Linked DNA regions of Homo sapiens. The protein of the gene in region 4 purifies or fractionates together with the protein of the main gene of each other region. This does not show direct contact. Each region holds a gene or a part of one and is shown on either strand. Other genes may lie near its edges.

Region 1 (3,519 bases), on a different chromosome or scaffold from region 4:
CAAGGAGAATTTTTACTTCCTGCTGACCAGCACTATTTTATTTAAAGGCAACTGTTTGTGGACCTTAGGAATCAGTCTTCTCTTGACCACCTAGTATAATAATTGCTGAAAATGGGCTGAAACAATCATATTACACTGTTTACATCTGTTTGGATGCTCCTCTTACCTTTCATCTACAGAAATGTTGTACTCTTCGCTATTGCTGTGTGGAGGAGGATGTGCTGGGGGAGGAGGAAGCAGGTCTGCCCAGTTCATGCCACCCTGTTTTGGTACCTTGGGTGTTCTTGCCCCTTTCTTGTGCCCCTGACTCCCTAGAAAGGAAATAAAATAGAAGCCATTGATCTCTGGCCTTTAAACTTTTTCCATTAGTCACAAGTTAATTATTTTTTGTAAATATGATTTTATAATTCATTTATATATACAGAGATAAACATGCTTTTTCATTAATTTTAAACAGAACTTTGTACAAGAGAACATGCAAGGTACTGCCATGAATAACTGCAAAATAAATAGCAAAAAAGCAATAAAACCATGAATGAATGTTTCAAGTCATATCATTAATAGTGATCTTCCTGCAGCAATTAATTGCATTATGGATTATCATCTCAAACAAATGAGCTGTAGATATATTTTCTCGAGTGCCTTTCTATTATTTAATTGCTGGAACTTAAAATACAATATGATACAGATACGATCTATTAGAGTTCCACTGTTGCATTAAATCACTGAATATATATAATTTGTACTTGTCCATTGAAATGTTTTAGGCACAATGAAATTACTAGTTCCCTTCAGAAAGGCAAGTACAGATGAAATAATAGCTGGAATAACTGATAGAACTAATGACAAAAGAAGCAGAAAAATGATTTTTAAAAGGGACAGAAGTGTTTTCAGCCACTGTTTCTGTACAATGATGGCTTATGGTAAAATGATGTTGCTTGAACATTCTTAGTAGTTTGACATAGCCCAATCATTCAAGTGCTCCAGTGTTCTCATTTTAGATCTGGCATATTTTTTAAACACAAGAGGCTATATATTTGAGAGCATTTATTTTAACAAAAACTTTAGGTCAACAAATATTTTGGGACAAAATATCCCCTTTCCAATATGTTATATTTTTGATTCATATGTGAATTATAGACAATGAGTCTATGATTATTTTTCTCATAAGTTCCCTTTATATCAGTGCATTATGTTGGCCTTAGTTTTTTAACCCTATCCAATCCTTCTCCAAGTCATGTAATATATGAATCAGGTCTGATCATATTCAATGAGCCTTGATTTTTTTGTCACTTGGGAATTTTCAGTCAAATGGCAGTGTTTGTTAAGCCAGATGTTCTTGTACTGGTAGGTTACCACACTAAGCGTGGGCTAGGGACAGGCTGTTATTAATAAACTACGATTATCAGTCCTATGTGTATGTCTCTCACTTCTCTCGTCCACCACTCCGGTGTCCAGCATTGGGATAACTGTGCATGTGTTGTAGACTAGACATTAACCCACATCTTCCTCTGGATTTCCTGATATACATCTACTGTAGCAACTCCATCAGTCCGGAGAGGCCTATCACAGATCTCTCCTATACCTTATTTACTTGCTTTGTTCTCTTCCCTAATTACCATCACGCATCTTTACATCTTTTTACCATATATTCACAGAATATCAAATGATATATAGCAGTAGAACACCCAGATCTAGGTATCTAAGCTGAGGGATGCTGAAGGTCAATTAAAGATTAATAACCTAGAATCATTGTTTATTTTCCCATTAAGATATGGTTTTCTCTATGTGACTAAAAATTCAAAGATCAAATGGCATAAGATAATCAAATATTAAAATATTTCATATGATTTTCTTAAAAGTAGATCCTTGAAATATTTCTCTTAATTCAGGATTGACTTAGCTTCAAAAAAGAAGTCATTTAATAAGATGTTAATTGTTAAAACAAACAAATAACATATAATAGAATCAGAGTAAATCTAAAAGGTAAAGGGCCATTTCTAAGCTCCCTTAATTCCAACAGAAACACAGGCTAGACAATGCCAGACCAGCGTGTTAGTTAAGGGAAAACTGTAAAATGCAAATGCCATATTCATTACAGAAGAAGGGTGGAGACTCTTGGCTAAAAGCCCCTAAGAACAACTTTAATCCAGTTGCTGGGAAGTGGCATTTCTACCCTCTCCTGGAGAAACATTGCTAGAGTCAAGATCAGTCGGTTTTGTTCTCATTGTGGTGTGATGTGCCACATGTTAGTTCTAATAACGAACTGCCTTTAATTAGAAAAACAGGACTTAAGTACCCAGCAAGCTCCCATCTGCAGCCCCTATCAGGAAAACAGCTGGCAAACAGCTGTAACAGCATGAAGACCACAGGGAAGAGGCCTCAATGTGGCTTTGGGAGGCACTTACAGACTGAGGTTGGGAGGTTGCTTTACGAGGCTTCAGAGCAAGAACTGAGGGATCGTAGAGGGATGATAAACTGAGACAGGCTCCTATTGTACCTGAATCTCATGTTATTGTCTCTCCGGCTTTTGATTCTGCTCAAGTGTCCTCAAACATTATGTGCTTTTATAGGCTCGTTTCAAATGGCAACATATTTAGCAGGTTAACTCTGTGCAACATTTTTAGTTATATTTTGGCCAACGGGGAAAAAGTTTCAACTGCCTTTAAAGATTAACCAGACATGTTTCTTCTGGCTTTGCTAAAGCTCATTAACAAGGAAGAAAATAGGACACTTAGTCTTTTTGCCAAATAGAACATAAAATGATTTAGTGAGTGGAAAGTCCCTCAAATTGCAGAGACAAGACACATGCCTGAGACTCAAATTACATACAGTGATTTAGACATGTCACCTACATACGTCAGTCCATTAGCACTCAATTTGTAATCTTGGAAAGTACCAGCTTTTTAAAGGAGAAGTTCTTTGGTTCATCTTACTTACCAGATGTACTACTGCCCCGGTCTGAGCTGTTGTAGGATCCTCCTGTGTTCTGGTCGTATGATTGGTTGTATGGGATAGTTGGAGGAACTGTGTCATTTGCTCGATAATCTAGACATATCAGATGAAAAAACAATAAACATTTATTTTCTCTTCATGAGCGATTTCACATCTCTGCTTTCTCTATATTTCTGAGTAACTAAAGAAACAAATTGGACCATTTATTTGCCTTTTTTCTCTTCTATTGTTGTATTCAGATTGTCAGGATATAAAAAGGCTTATACTCCAAATATATATAAACTATAAATAACTTTAATAATATAATATCAATATGATTTTAATAAGAATCACAAAAATGTCTGCAAATCATAAAAAATAAATCACAATACATAAAAATAAAACTGAAACCTGTCAGCAAGGTTATATCTAATAAAAAATATATCTATGATTAAAAAAAACAAATATCTTAATTTGCCCCAGAAATGCTTCTGCTTACTTAGGCAAAGGTGAAAATCCAAATGATAAGCTTGCCACTGGAATGTAGTCAGTAATAATCTGTCGTCTAGTTGCATTCCAGGTTCT
Region 2 (3,519 bases), on a different chromosome or scaffold from region 4:
AAACATTAAGGTAGAGATATATAACGAAATATTCTGAAGAAAATGAACTACAGCTACATGTTTCAGCAAGGATATATCTCTAGAACACAATGTTGAATGAAGAAGGCAAATGTAGAACATCTATATATATAAAAGTATTTTACTTAATAAAAAGTGCAAACATAACATTGTATAAAGATAGAAACACTTGGGGTAAAGCTATAAAGAAAGACAACAAAATTATAACCAAAGTTTAGAATAATGGTTAACTTTGGGACATAGGCATGCACCTAGGGGTGGCACTGGTACATCAAAGCTCTATTTTTTTTTTTTTTTTGAGGAGTCTTGCTCTGTCGCCCAGGCTGGAGTGCAGTGGCGCGATCTTGGCTCACTGCAACCTCTGCTTCCCAGGTTCAAGCAATTCTCCTGCCTCAGCCTCCTGAGTAGCTGGGATTACAGACACGCACTACCACGCCCGGCTAATTTTTGTATTTTTAGTAGAGACAGGGTTTCACCATGTTGGTTAGGCTGGTGTTGAACTCCTGACCTTGTGATCTGCCCACCTCGGCCTCCCAAAGTACTGGGATTACAGGTGTGAGCCACCACACCCGGCCCAAAGATCTATTTTTTAAGCTAGATGGCAGGTACATGAGTATGTATTATATAGCTTTTTATACTTTTATCATTTTTTATGTCTAATACTTAATAAAACAAGCAAAAATGTAAGCAGTACAATTCTGCCCCTCTGCATTCACTTGGCTCCCCACCCTTCTCCCCTACTTTAGGCCTGTCATTCAGGAACAGAACAATACCTCTGTGTACAGGTGACATTATGTAATATCACCATAGGTTTTATTCAGTATGCACTATGTTTTGGAAGACATGACCTGCTTCCAGTATATCTGCAAGAAAATGAATACGTTATGTTCTAATAAGATTGTAGTCATTTATTCAACCAAAAATAATAAAGCCAGACCCTGTGAGGTGACTGAACGATGAGTAACACACAGTTCCTGACTTCAAGGAGTTCACAGCCTAATGGGGGTGTCAGGCCCAGGCAGGTAACCAAAACAGGGAGGCAGGGCAGCACCCAGGCTTATCCATCTCAGTCTACTACCTGTTAGCTGCATAGCCTAGAACAAGTCCCTTAGCCTTTCTACGCCTTGCTGTCTTCATTACAAACTGAAATACCACCCACTCCAAGGCAGAGGTGGGAAGGTAAATGAGAAGAGTGGCCAGCATCACGAATAGCTCAGAGCTGTCTCTGTGTAAATGGTTAAGGCAGATCATAAGCAGACAGGAAGCTGGAGTCGCTCAATAGGCAACTGCATCTATCAACAGGAACTCAGAGAGAAAAGGCCATGAGGAAGAAGAGAAGCCTAGAACACAGGGACGAAATGGCCTGAGTGGGAGAAAGGAGAGCTAGCAGAGGGCTCCAGAAGTGAGGCTGAAAATACGCCATGGTACTGGCCATCAGAAGTACCTGAAAGTCTTAGTCAGTAAACTAAGAGATGCGGGGAGGGGAAGGCACAGAAGGCAGCAAGCACACAGCCGAGGAGAAAATGGGAGACCGAGTATAGATGGCACGTGGCGGTTCCTTTTTTAGGAAGTCTGGGTAGGCAAGGGAAGAAAGACTGATGAATAACTAGAAAGGAAACAAACGTCAAAGATTCTTATGGTATTTTCAGTTCAAATGATGAATATCAAGCACAATAAAATAAGGGATATGAATAATTAAGAAACAGGTAAAACCATAAAATATTTACAAGAAAAAGAATGCAACACAACTGCTTACTAACTTCCTATTACCATCACAAATATTTTTAGTTTTTAATTCTCATCTCTGTTATCCATTCTATGCTGACAAGTTATGATGCAATTTATAACAATAACAAAAAACCTTTTCATGAAGGTGCAGAGTGACAAAGATGAGAAAAAGGTGTTTTAAATTCTTTTATTGCTTTTCAAACAACAACAAAAATCTAAAGATGATCATTTTTATCCCTATGCCCCATCTAAACTAAGATGCATGTCTTGGGCAGGTAACTTTGTCTCTCTGGCCCTCAACTTCCACATGTGTAAAATGGAAGGTTAGATTAATGATCTGCAAATTCTATATATTCTGTCAATTCAGGATTCCCTTCTAAGGCATCACTTGACTGGCAAGAAGCAGCCTCACACCTTTAAAGATGGAGAATTTACCACCTATCATGGGAACTCATTTCTAGTGACAGAGAGCTTTAAACTGATAGTAATAGTTTTGTAAACCCAGCCCAAATTTCTCCTCCTGAAATTCCCTCTCCCTAAGTTTTCAATCTACTCTCTGAATCACACAAAACAAGACTTCTTATTCCTTTCAGATATTTGGAAATAGTGATTCTGTCCCTAATTCTGATATTCTTCCAAGCTAAACAATAACAGACTCTCCTTGGGAGAAGAAAGGAAAGAGAATATTGCTCACCGATAAGATGATGTGGAACTTCTCGATCGACTTCTTGAGTGACTATAGGAGACAGACCTTGTTCTGTGTCTTGATTTGGTTTCAGATTTACTTCGAGATCTACTTGGACTCCTGGACTGGCTATCATCATCCCGACTAGGCGTCTGCTCATCACTTGAACTCTCCTGATTTCTTGGTCTACGGTTTAAGCGTGCTGTCTTTCTTACTTCATCAAAGAGAGACCCAGGCCGAACTTTATTTTTGCTTTTAATTTCTATTCTCAAGCCTTGTGGTTTCATTTCAGGCACAGTGGTCAACACCTTAACTTCCACAGCACTGGATGTGGCAGCATTAGGTGCTGCCAGGTTCCCCACACCTTGCAGGGGCTTCCATTTCTTATCAATGAGGTTGATCTGGCTCTTCTCAGCCACCTCCTTCTTCCCGGTACTTTCTCCAGCACTAGCCAAGCTAGCAGAGCTGCTGTCCTGTTTCCCCACTTCACCCAACACTTTACTTTCGGACATGCTGCTTTCCTGTTTTACTACCTCTGCTTGAGGATGTTCCGTTGCCATATCCTGCTTCAAAACAATGTTTATATCTGGGGTATCAAGCCGTGCATTTCCTAGAGGGGAAGTCTCCTCTACTTTTGCTGGGGAACTCCTATCAGGAGTGCAGATCTCCATGTTGTCATCTGTTTGAAGCACATCTTCCACTCCATTGGGAACACTTTCTTCAACGTGCTGAATGTTTTGTAAACAGGCCACATTTTCCTCAGTATTTAAAGCTGTGGGAGAAATACTGAGTTTACTATCATCTTTAGTAAACTGATCAAGATCTGATGAAACAGTCACTGTATCATGTTTACCTGAAAGGTCCTCTTCACTGGATTTCTCAGTTTTTAGAATATTATCTTTTATGGTTTCATTGTTTTCAGAAACTTTTTTCTCTTTTGATTCCTGAGTAACTTGCTTGTCATCAATCTCCTCCTCCTCCTCTTCACCAAATTCTAGTGGAGGCTGCCAGTGAAATGCTTGCTTTCGTTTTGGAGCCTTATGCTTTTTGTCTTTTTTCCCTTTCAATTTCTCTTTCACTTTTTTGGT
Region 3 (3,519 bases), on a different chromosome or scaffold from region 4:
GGAAAAAAGCAAATGGAAGCAAGTTCCGGGTTTGTTAAACCACCTTTCTATACTCCTAGGTGAGGCAAAAGAACAGGCTAGCTAGATAAGGCTTTTTAACTCCTTTCCCTGCTATAGTCCTGGTTTACTCACCAAACCTTACATTAAACTCTTATATTAAACATTATACCATTGAGCACTGGTATCTTTGCAGTATTCACAGTGATACCCATGGATACCACTAGATACCATTTGAAGTGCGCTTGCTGGGAGAGAGGAACTTTTCACGTTTTACTTCAATTTGCCCCTATACTGTATGAACTTTTATAATGAGCACATTTTACAGACAGAAAGACATGCATACGGTATTAGAAGATCCTTAATGATTAGTTTATAACTTGTCCCTCACGCATCTTAATCCAACTCAAAATACTGTAAACTGATTGGAAGGAATATCAACATACAAAACAAAGAATGGCCAAGAAAGCACATCCCTAATAAAATATTGCTCATATCCTAGCAGGTAAATCTAAAGGACATGAAATGATACATATTAAGTAGCTGGTGGCTAAATATAATTCCCAGGTATCACAAAATAGAAATCAGTTTTTTTTTTCCTTTTTTTTTTGTAGACGGAGTCTTGCTGTTGCCAGGCTGGAGTGCAGTGGCACGATCTTGGCTCACTGCAACCTCCGACTCCCTGGTTCAAGCGATTCTCCTACCTCACCCTCCCGAGCAGCTGGGATTACAGGCATGCGCCACCACATCCAACTAATTTTTTTTTGTATTTTTAGTAGAGACAGGGTTTCACCATGTTGGCCAGGGTGGTCTCAAACTCCTGACCTCAGGTGATCCGCCCGCCTCGGCCTCCCAAAGTGTTGGGATTACAGGTGTGAGCCACCACGTCCGGCCTAGAAATCAGTTTTCAAGTTCTCTATAGAATATATACCACTTAGATAAGTTTCATTTTAAATAAATGAAAGTTTATTCTTCAGATTGATAAGATTCGCTTTCTTTGAAATAACTCAAGTTTATCTCCAAACCACCATGATTCATACTCCTTTTGTGCTCCACAGTACCAAAAACAAAGCTACGCACATGGGTGGGTACCAAGAGTTACCTACTGATGGAAATTAATCCAAAGAATTAAATAAGTTACGAAAAAAAAATCAATGATGTCAAGTAATAGTTAAAATTCAAGATTTTACTTTAGTACTGATTATTCATAAATAGATTCTTTTATCCCATATTAGAATATTGTCAACACAAGCTTATTGGAAAGGTTGACTTAACTTTGCCCCATTTTTCTTCTTTCTTGCTGCTACCCTATGACAGAATTACCATCTCTTTGATGAAAACAACTCAATAAAGAATTCTCTTTCACCAAACTCAGCTTTTGTTGAACTTGTTACCGCAAATCTATTCCCTATCTTATCCAGTCACATGCTGAAAAAAATTCCATCTTTTAAAAATCTGTTCATGAATAACTTACGGTTCTCTGAACCACCCTATCAGGAAGGCAGATATAGTATTACGAACTCTGGCTGGGCGCAGTGGCTCACACCTGTAACCCCAGCACTTTGGGAAGTGGGCGGATCACAAGGTCAGGAGTTTGAGACCAGCCTGGCCAGCATGGTGAAACCCCGTCTCTACCAAAAATACAAAAATTAGCCAGGCATGGTGGCACACGCCTGTAATCCCAGCTACTCAGGAGGCTGAGGCAGGAGAATCACTTAACCCGGGAGGCAAGGTTGCAGTGAGCCAAGATCATGCCACTGCACTCCAGCCTGGGCGACAGAATGAGACTCCGTCTATTAAAAAAAAAAAAAAAAAAAAAAAAAAAAAACCTGTTTATGAACAACTTTTGTTCTCTGAACCACCCTATCAGGAAGGCAGATATAGTACTATGAACTCCATTTTACTTGTGAGAAATTGATGTTTAAGAGAATAACTCACTTAAGGTCCCATGGGTAGTGAGTGGCAAGGAAAACTCAGAATCAAGTTTCCTGATTCCATACCTGGTGGCCCTTTCCAATATACCATACTGACTCTTCAATAATGAAATGGAGGGCCGGGCACAGTGGCTCACGCCTGTAATCCCAGTACTTTGGGAGGCCAAGGCGGTTGGATCACCTGAGGTCAGGAGTTCGAGACCAGCCTGGCCAACATGGTGAAATCCCATCTCTACTAAAAATATGAAAATTAGCTGGGCATGGTGGTGAGCGCCTGTAATCCCAGCTACACTTGGGAGTCTGAGGCAGGAGAATCACTTGAACCTGGGAGGTGGAGGTTGCAGCGAGCTGAGATCACGCCACTGCACTCCAGCCTGGGCATGAGTTGTACAAGAGTACAAACTCCATCTCAAAGAAAAAAAAAGGAGAAAAAAAAAAAGATAATGAAATGGAGTTAACCCTGTAAACTAGAATCTTGGAGGACCACAATGGTGATATGAGTGTTTTTCTTAAGTTTTACTTTAAATCAACATACATTAAATAACTAAATGGTTTTGTGAATCATTTTAATTTTTCAAATCACGTGAAATGACTCATATTACAATAAAAAATGCCATTCAAGAACTTCCAAATACTATAGTCACGAGAATAAAAAAGAAACTAAATTTCTTCTAAATCATCTTTGTGCCACTACCATATCTGATAATATATTCCTTCTGTACTCTTGAAACCTATCTCAGAAGTATCTTTGACAAATTATAAATGTAGAAGAATTTAAGAAGTTAATTAAAATTATTTTAATATAATTTCTCCTTTATTTTAATAACAAAATACCAGGGAAAAAGTTCCATTTATTTACCTCAGTAATTGGCTGCCCTTGATGTGTCAAATCCAGCTCTTGAGGGCGTGTTACTTTATCAATATCCAAAGAGTCCATGCTGGAGGCTGCGGAAGTGATGCTGGAATGGGAGGAATTACTAATAGAGTGTACTTCAGCATCACTCACTGTGCCTGCTGACGCGGTTCTTCTGTGCTGATTAGTTACTAAGGGTTTAGTATCTTCTAGTACAGATTGCTGAGCAGCCTCATCCATACTCAAAGAGGCCTGTTCTAACTGTGCAGTGACGTCGTCCAAGGAGTAGCTGGCATGGGAAGGTTTAGCTATCCTATTAGATGAAGAAGATAATCCTTTCAAGGTGCCATGTTTCAATGTATGTCGGCTAACAGGCAATTTCTGAGTAGCTTTCGTTTCTGTGATTTGACGCTTACTGTTTCCTGAACCAATGCTGCTGAGCTCCTGCTCTATAGAGCAAAGATCAGCCATCAAGGCATCCAGATCCACAGTCTCTCCCTGATTCAGAGCTTCTGCAATGAACAACACATAATGTTTCCAGAATTTATACATTCTATTATAAATCAGTTAATAAATGCAGGTGATGAAGCAAAAGAATATATTTTGTTGGGCCTAAAGCAAATAAAATTAAGTATTTCTGGTTTTTGTTTTAAATTCCAAGATAAATTTTTAGAAGTACACAGTCCTCCTCTTTTAAGGCTTGTAATAATCAGAGGAGAATAAATTATGAGTTCA
Region 4 (3,519 bases):
CGACAGACCGTCATCCTGACGGCTATTTAGCCAGGTAAGTAGAGCCTGGGAATCAGGCCCCTAAGCCTCCGCTCCTCCTGGGGCCATGAGGAGCCACTGCACCTCAGCCTTGCAGTACTGCCCGGTGTGATAAGCTCTTCTGTTTTCTCCCTGTTTCTGTGAATGTCTAGGCAACGAAAAAGAGGAGAGCCACCCCCTCCAGTAAGGCGTCCTGGCAGGACCAGTGATGGCCATTGCCCGCTCCACCCTCCACATGCCCTTTCTAACTCCTCAGTTGACCTAGGGTCCCCAAGCCTTGCCAGTCACCCCCGGGGCCTGCTGCAGAACCGTGGCCTCAACAATGACAGTCCTGAGCGGAGGCGCAGGCCTGGCCATGGCAGCCTGACCAACATCAGCCGGCACGACTCCCTCAAGAAGATCGACAGCCCTCCCATTAGAAGGTCCACGTCATCAGGGCAATACACGGGCTTCAATGACCACAAGCCACTGGACCCAGAGACAATTGCTCAGGTACGATGCTTTTAATTACATATTGCATTTTAAGTACCTAAGTGTGATGTAGGAGGTGTGAAAGATTTACTTTATTTACTTTTTACTTTATTTACTTTATATTTCTGTATAGAACCAACTAAAGAAAACAGAAACAAAACCAGCTCATTCTTTAACTTAGGCCCTGAGTCTTTTTTGAACAATTTGTTACTGAAAGGGCCCAAAGGTTCATAGTGATTTAAACAGAAACATGACAAAAACGTAGGACCAGGACACTCAAACCTATCATTGTGAATAGCCAGAAAAACTTTGAAAAAGAAGAATGGGAAAGCAGTGGCCCTGCCAGATCCTAAATGCATTCTAAAGCTAGTAAAACAGACAGATGGATGAAACAGAATGGAGAGCCCAGAAACAGAAAAACCTTAAAACAGTAGTCCCTCCTTATCTGCAGGGCATATGTTTCAAGACCCCCAGTGGATGCCTGAAGCCACAGATAGTGCAAACCCCTACTGTATATGATAAAGATGGCACTTTCAACTTAGAAAAGATGAGACCTAATAAATAATGTGATCAATAATAGATAGATATTTGAAGAACAAGTCTGGATCCTATGTACCTCCTGAACACATTCAGGTCTTTGCTTCCCAACAGTGACTGCAGAGGGGCTGTGTAGTTTTCTTCTAATGACTAAAATTGACCAAGTAAAAGGGAAACAATACTAATAAATTTGCCCATCATTCTACCATTTTTCCCTCTGGTTCTGGCTCTTTTCACAGCACAGGCCATGAGAACATATGTTCGTAGGCCTAGTGGGTGGCTTACACCTGTAATCCCAACACTTTAGGAGGCTGAGGCAAGAAGATAGCTTGAGGTTAGGAGTTTGAGACAAGCCTGGTCAATATAGCAAAATCCCGTGTCTAAAAAAAAAAATTTTTTTTTAATTACCTAGGTATATTAGGATTCTCTAGAGGGACAGAATTAATGGAATATATATACATATAAAGGGGAGTTTATTAAGTATTAACTCACACAATCACAGAGTCCCACAATAGGCCATCTGCAGGCTGAGGAGCAAGGAGAGCCAGTCCAAGTTCCAAAACTGAAGAACTTGGAGTCTGATGTTCAAGGGCAGGAAGCATACAGCACGGGAGGAAGACGTAGGCTGGGAGGCTAGGCCAGTCTAACCTTTTCATGTTTTTCTGCCTGCTTTATGTTCACTGGCAGTTAATTAGATGGTGCCCATCCAGATTAAGGGTGGGTCTGCCTTCCCCAGCCCACTGACTCAAATGTTAATTTCCTCTGGCAACCCCCTCACAGACACACCCAGGAGTAACACTTTGCATCCTTCAATCCAATCAAGTTGACACTCAGTATTAACCATCACAAGTCTACCCCTTGTCAACTTGAACCCATAAACATCTCCTGAGATCGTACATAATCTTCAAATAAAAACAATAATGTCATAATTACGCCTAACATGATACAACTGTCCTTTCCTATAACCGGAAACACACCAATCCCCAACCCAAATGCTATTACATAAAGTTAACAATACTTAAATGCTGATAGGAAGTCAATATAATCTTATGTCACATGCTAAAGGAAAAAGGAAATAAAATGAAGATATTTTCCTAGTACAAGTGTATACATGCACAAACATGTTTTTAACGAAAGAAGGAAATACTCATGACAATTACAGTCCCTGTTTCCACGTGGTCATAGCTGGTATTGATGACTACCTTCTACTACCCATTCCGTATTCCCTTTGCCTTCAGCAAGCACCTCAGCAGGTCGTGGTTGTTGTTGTTGTTGTTGTTGTTGTTGTTGTTTTCCTGGCGGAGTGACCCAAACCTTCATTCCTGAAGGGTCTGGGCCATTTGTAGTCCTGCCTGGATTGGGCTATTGTAGTTTCCCATTGACCTTAATCACAGAGCGTGGTAATACTAAGAAACGCCCTAATGGATCTCCTGTATTCCATGCACACTCTTTTTTACCTGCATCGTGGAGTAGTCGACTGATTTCATCTTGATAGTCTGAGTCAGTCACCTTAGCCAACACTGTAACTCCCTTCTTAGTCTGTTGCCTTAAAGGTAGGAGGAGCCCAAAGTGTCCAGGTGGCAATCTTAACTCAATGGCATTGTTGCTGTGTCTCCTGGTGGCACATTCCTCCCTCTGGAACTGAGACCTCTAGGCCAGCAGAACATAATGTCGCGGGAACAGGAAGTAAAAATGTTGCTAGGGGGTCACTAGGGATAATGATGAATGGTGCCACTTCCACTTCCACCTCTTGATTCCTGGACCCGTGAATCCTGGCTATGGGAGAAACTGCACCATGTATTGGACACAGATTCAGAGCATACACAGCCTTCTGGGGAACTTTGCCCCAGCCCTGCAAAGTATTGTCACCTAGTTGGTGTTGCAATTGTGACATCACAAGACCAATCCACCATTCTGTCAATCCAGCTGCTTCAGGATGATAGGGAGCATGGTAAGACCCATGAATTCCATGAGCATGAGCCCACTGCCACTCTTCTTTAGCCATAAAGTAAGTGCCTTGGTCAGAGGTAATGCTGTGTGGAATACCATCATGGTGGATAAGGCATTCCATGAGTCACAGATGGTAGTCTTGGCAGAAGCATTGTGTGCAGGATAGGCAAACCCATATCCGGAGTAACTGTCTATTCCAGTGAGGACAAACCTCTGCCCTTTTCATGATGGAAGAGGTCCAGTGTAATCAACCTGCCACCAGGTAGCTGGCTGATCACCCTGAGGAATGGTGCCATATCGAGGGCTGTGTTGGCTTCTGCTGCTGGCAAATTGAGCACTAAGCAGTGGCCATAGCCAGGTCAGCCTTGGTGAGTGGAAGTCCATGTTGCTGAGCCCATGAGTAACCTCCATCCCTGCCACTATGGCCACTTTGTTCATGGGCCCATTGAGCAAGAACAGGGGTGGCTGGGGAAAGAGGCTGAATGGTGTCCACAGAATGGCTCATCCTATCCACTTGATTATCAAAATCCTCCTCTGCTGAGG
Region 5 (3,519 bases), on a different chromosome or scaffold from region 4:
ACTCTGAGACTCTCATTTACAGGGCAGCAGAGGGCAGAGAAGCCCCCTACCAGTAACACACATATGGCCCTGCAACAGCCCAGGGCTGCTCACCCATGTTGTACTTCTGCTGCACTTCCCGGACCACTTGGGTGTTGGCCGACCTCCGGAAGATGCCCTCGGTGGTGAGAGCTGGGAAACAGTAGGGCCTGGTGAGCCTCCGAGCGCTGGGCACCGGCTGGATTCCCTGCCCCTTCTCTGTCTTGGGGTTCTAGGCAGGGCTGGGTGGGGACGTTGAGGCTTGCAGGACCTCCCTCTGCCCTGCCCAGCAGCTTCCCCAGCTTCCTGAAGGGAGCCGGGAGACCTGGCTGGTGAGGAGGCAGGCCCGGCACTCACCGTGGGCCTGTAAGTAGGCAACAGTCTCCCTGAGTACAATGGGAATGGGCTCCTGCTCTGGATTCTTCTCCTGGAGGCTGCGGGAAAAAGGCTGGTGAGCCGGGCCTGCAGCCCTTCCCGCCCCGCCGTGGCCCAGCCACCTTTCATACTTACTGCTGCAGCGAGACTCCAAACTGCTGGTTGGGCAGGGGGGGCCGTGGGGGCATGGGCTTGGGGGCTGTCGCGGGGCTCTTCTGTGTGGATTTCAGGAAGTCGTCATATCTGTAGGAGTAGAGGGAGGTGGGTCAGGTCCTGCCTGGCTCTGGAGTCACTCTGCCAATTCAATCAAGCATTGACCACGCGGGGTCAGGAGGATCATCTCATGCGATCTCTGTAACAACTCCGCTTTCCACAGCAGAAAGCAAAGACCTGGGAGAGGTCGGGACACGGGCTTGCTCTGCCTAAGCCCCACGCGGTCTCTGAATCAGGACACACGTCCTCATTACCCTGGCTTCACGAGCCCCCAGCCGCCGCACCCGCCTCACTTGAGCACTTGGCGAGGGATCCCCAGCTGCTCCAGCTTCACGTGCTCGCTCAGCTCGCTCAGGTAATTCACATAGAAGATCTTCTGCCCGAACTTGAAGCTGTTGGTGGAAGAAAGGGCCTGGGTTGTGGGGGCCCGCTTCCGGTGGCCTCCACTCTCCCCTCAACACCCACCCAGTTCAGACGGAAGCCCAGCCGCACCTGGTGGTCCCCAGGCTGCCCAGCCTCCCAGCTTCAGAGTTCCAGGCAAGCCGGGACCACCAGCCCTGCCCGTGGCCACTCACCTGATGAGGGGCTTGAAGAGGATGAGCAGAGTTTTGATGAACATGGTTGGATGCACGATGTACAAGGCCTTGATGTTTTTCTTGTACCTGCAGAGACAGAATGGACAACTCAGGAGCAGGCGTGGTGGGACAGGTGCCACGCTAGGGTCCCAGTGCATACTTTTTTTTTTTGAGACAGAGTCTCCTTCACCCAGGCTGGAGTGTGATCTCAGCTCATTGCAGCCTCCACCTCCCGGATTCAAGCTATTCTCCTGCCTCAGCCTCCTGAGTAACTAGGATTACAGGCACCCACCACCACACCTAGCTAATTTTTGTATTTTTAGCGGAGACAGGGTTTCACCATGTTGGCCAGGCTGGTCTGGAACTCCTGACCTCAAGTGATCCATCCGCCTCAGCTTCCCAAAGTGCTGGGATTACAGGTGTGAGCCACCACACCCTGCCTCAGTGCATATTTTCTGATTTGAACATGCATGGCCAGCATGCGAGGTAAGGGCCATCACTGTCTCATTTTACAGATTAGAAAACAGGAGGCTCAAAGAGGTTAAGTAAAACAAGAGGTCAGAGTGCAAATAAGCTGAGAAACTGGGCCTTACTTAAGCCCAGGGTGATCTGACTGCAGATTCTTTACATTGACGTAGACGGCAGCCCCCGCCACCCCCTGCCTTGGAATAAGCTCCTGCCCAAGTGGAGGGCAGCCCGGAAGCTGGCAGAGCCGCTGCCTCTGGATCTGACTGTGCAGGCCCCATGCCCCAACCCACTTGCGGTCAAACTCCCGGTAGGCATCACGGAGCCAGCTGAGGGAGGGCTTGTTGTCGCTGGTCAGGCCGTGGTGCAGATACAGAAGTGTGTAGTCACTCTCCACGTACTGGTCCAGGGTGTGCTTCAGGTACCTTCCAGGGAAAAGCCCTGCTCAGGCCTGCCCTGTGCACAGGGGCGGCCCCACGAAGACAGAAAGCAGCCCCAAGAGTCTCCCACCACGTCACAGCCCCTTCCCCACAGGCCCTCCCCTAGCACAGTCTGTTCTGGCTCATAATCAGTCACCAGGTTGCTGTGGAGGAGGCCTAGGGTAGAGGCTGGGCAGAGGAATGAGAATAGTAATAACAGCTCTCAGCCGGGCGCAGTGGCTCATGCCTGTAATCCCAACACTTTGGGAGGCCAAGGCGGGTGGATCACCTGAGGTCAGGAGTTCAAGACCAGCCTGGCCAACATGGTGAAACCCCATCTCTACTAAAAATGCAAAAATTAGCCGAGCATGGTGGTGCAGGCCTGTAATCCCAGCTACTCAGGAGGCTGAGGCAGGAGAATCGCTTGAACCCAGGAGGCGGAGGTTTCAGTGAGCAGAGATTGTGGCACTGTACTCCAGCCTGGGCAACAAGAGTGAAACTCTGTCTCAATAATAGTAATAATAATAACAGTTCTCACTCTTGAGCAGGAACTAGATGTCAGGAGACCAGGACCCTAACCCGGGCCTGCCTAGGCCTGCAGTGAAAAGGGGAATGACGTTTCCCCTGAATCAGGGATTTCTCTGAATCAATAATAATGATGACAGTCACCATTTCTCAATATTAAGTTTTTAGTGTCTGCCAAGCACTTCACATACATTAGCTCATACATTGCTTATAACTGAGGCTGATGTAATCCCCATCCTACAAATGAAGGCAATGACCAGAGAGGTCAAGTGCTGATCCAAGGTCACACAGCTTGTGGTAGATCCTGGAAGTGAAGTGTCTAACACCAAAGCCTGCTTTTTTTTTTTTTTTTTTTTTGAGACAGGGTCTTACTGTCACCCAGGCTGGGGCACCGTAGCGCAATCACAGCTCACCGCAGCCTTGACCTCCCAGGCTTAAGCTATCCTCCTGCCTCAGCCTCCTGAGTAGTAGGAACCGCAGGTGTGAGCCACCACACCCGGCTCTTTTTTCTACTTTTTATTTTGTAGAGACAGGTCTCACTATGTTGCCCAGGCTGGTCTTGAGTTCCTGGCCTCAAGCAATCCTCCCACCTCAGCCTCCCAAAGTGCTGGGAGATTACAGGCATGAGTCACTGCACCTGGCCGAAAGCCTGCATTCTTGACCATGGGACAGCTTTGCCTTCTACACATGAACTCCAGTGCCGGCGGTAAAACACTGTGCCCATGAGAGGGGATGGGGTGGCCAGAGAGTCACCTGCTCCAGTCACTGGGCCTTTAGTGGACCAAAGAGCCCCAATTCCTCTGGTTCCCTATTATGCTCATGACACGCTATCTACCAGCTCAGCACAAACATATACACACCTGGTGTTGAGCACACTGAGAGTTATGGATGGAATGAACAAGAACTGGGGAAAGGGAAGGGAGTGTGTG

Evidence for each region.
Region 1: the proteins of SRGAP1 (region 4) and ROBO1 purify together in Homo sapiens (affinity purification with mass spectrometry; one large-scale study listed by BioGRID and IntAct). This does not show direct contact.
Region 2: the proteins of SRGAP1 (region 4) and NKTR purify together in Homo sapiens (affinity purification with mass spectrometry; one large-scale study listed by BioGRID and IntAct). This does not show direct contact.
Region 3: the proteins of SRGAP1 (region 4) and RAPH1 purify together in Homo sapiens (affinity purification with mass spectrometry; one large-scale study listed by BioGRID and IntAct). This does not show direct contact.
Region 5: the proteins of SRGAP1 (region 4) and ARHGAP1 purify together in Homo sapiens (affinity purification with mass spectrometry; one large-scale study listed by BioGRID and IntAct). This does not show direct contact.

What each region holds. Positions count from the first base shown.
Region 1 is NC_000003.12:78,630,995-78,634,513, forward strand, and holds part of ROBO1 (roundabout homolog 1 isoform a precursor), read right to left. Parts: intron 3,049-3,519; coding exon 2,941-3,048; intron 312-2,940; coding exon 167-311; intron 1-166. UniProt on the Homo sapiens protein: Receptor for SLIT1 and SLIT2 that mediates cellular responses to molecular guidance cues in cellular migration, including axonal navigation at the ventral midline of the neural tube and projection of axons to different regions during neuronal development.
Region 2 is NC_000003.12:42,638,672-42,642,190, reverse strand, and holds part of NKTR (NK-tumor recognition protein), read right to left. Parts: coding exon 2,441-3,519; intron 1-2,440. UniProt on the Homo sapiens protein: PPIase that catalyzes the cis-trans isomerization of proline imidic peptide bonds in oligopeptides and may therefore assist protein folding. Component of a putative tumor-recognition complex involved in the function of NK cells.
Region 3 is NC_000002.12:203,486,794-203,490,312, forward strand, and holds part of RAPH1 (ras-associated and pleckstrin homology domains-containing protein 1), read right to left. Parts: intron 3,297-3,519; coding exon 2,791-3,296; intron 1-2,790. UniProt on the Homo sapiens protein: Mediator of localized membrane signals. Implicated in the regulation of lamellipodial dynamics. Negatively regulates cell adhesion.
Region 4 is NC_000012.12:64,127,691-64,131,209, forward strand, and holds part of SRGAP1 (SLIT-ROBO Rho GTPase-activating protein 1), read left to right. Parts: coding exon 1-34; intron 35-170; coding exon 171-510; intron 511-2,483; exon of another isoform or gene 2,484-3,042; intron 3,043-3,519. UniProt on the Homo sapiens protein: GTPase-activating protein for RhoA and Cdc42 small GTPases. Together with CDC42 seems to be involved in the pathway mediating the repulsive signaling of Robo and Slit proteins in neuronal migration.
Region 5 is NC_000011.10:46,680,112-46,683,630, forward strand, and holds part of ARHGAP1 (rho GTPase-activating protein 1), read right to left. Parts: intron 2,072-3,519; coding exon 1,940-2,071; intron 1,269-1,939; coding exon 1,182-1,268; intron 999-1,181; coding exon 900-998; intron 637-899; coding exon 529-636; intron 453-528; coding exon 376-452; intron 172-375; coding exon 94-171; intron 1-93. UniProt on the Homo sapiens protein: GTPase activator for the Rho, Rac and Cdc42 proteins, converting them to the putatively inactive GDP-bound state. Cdc42 seems to be the preferred substrate.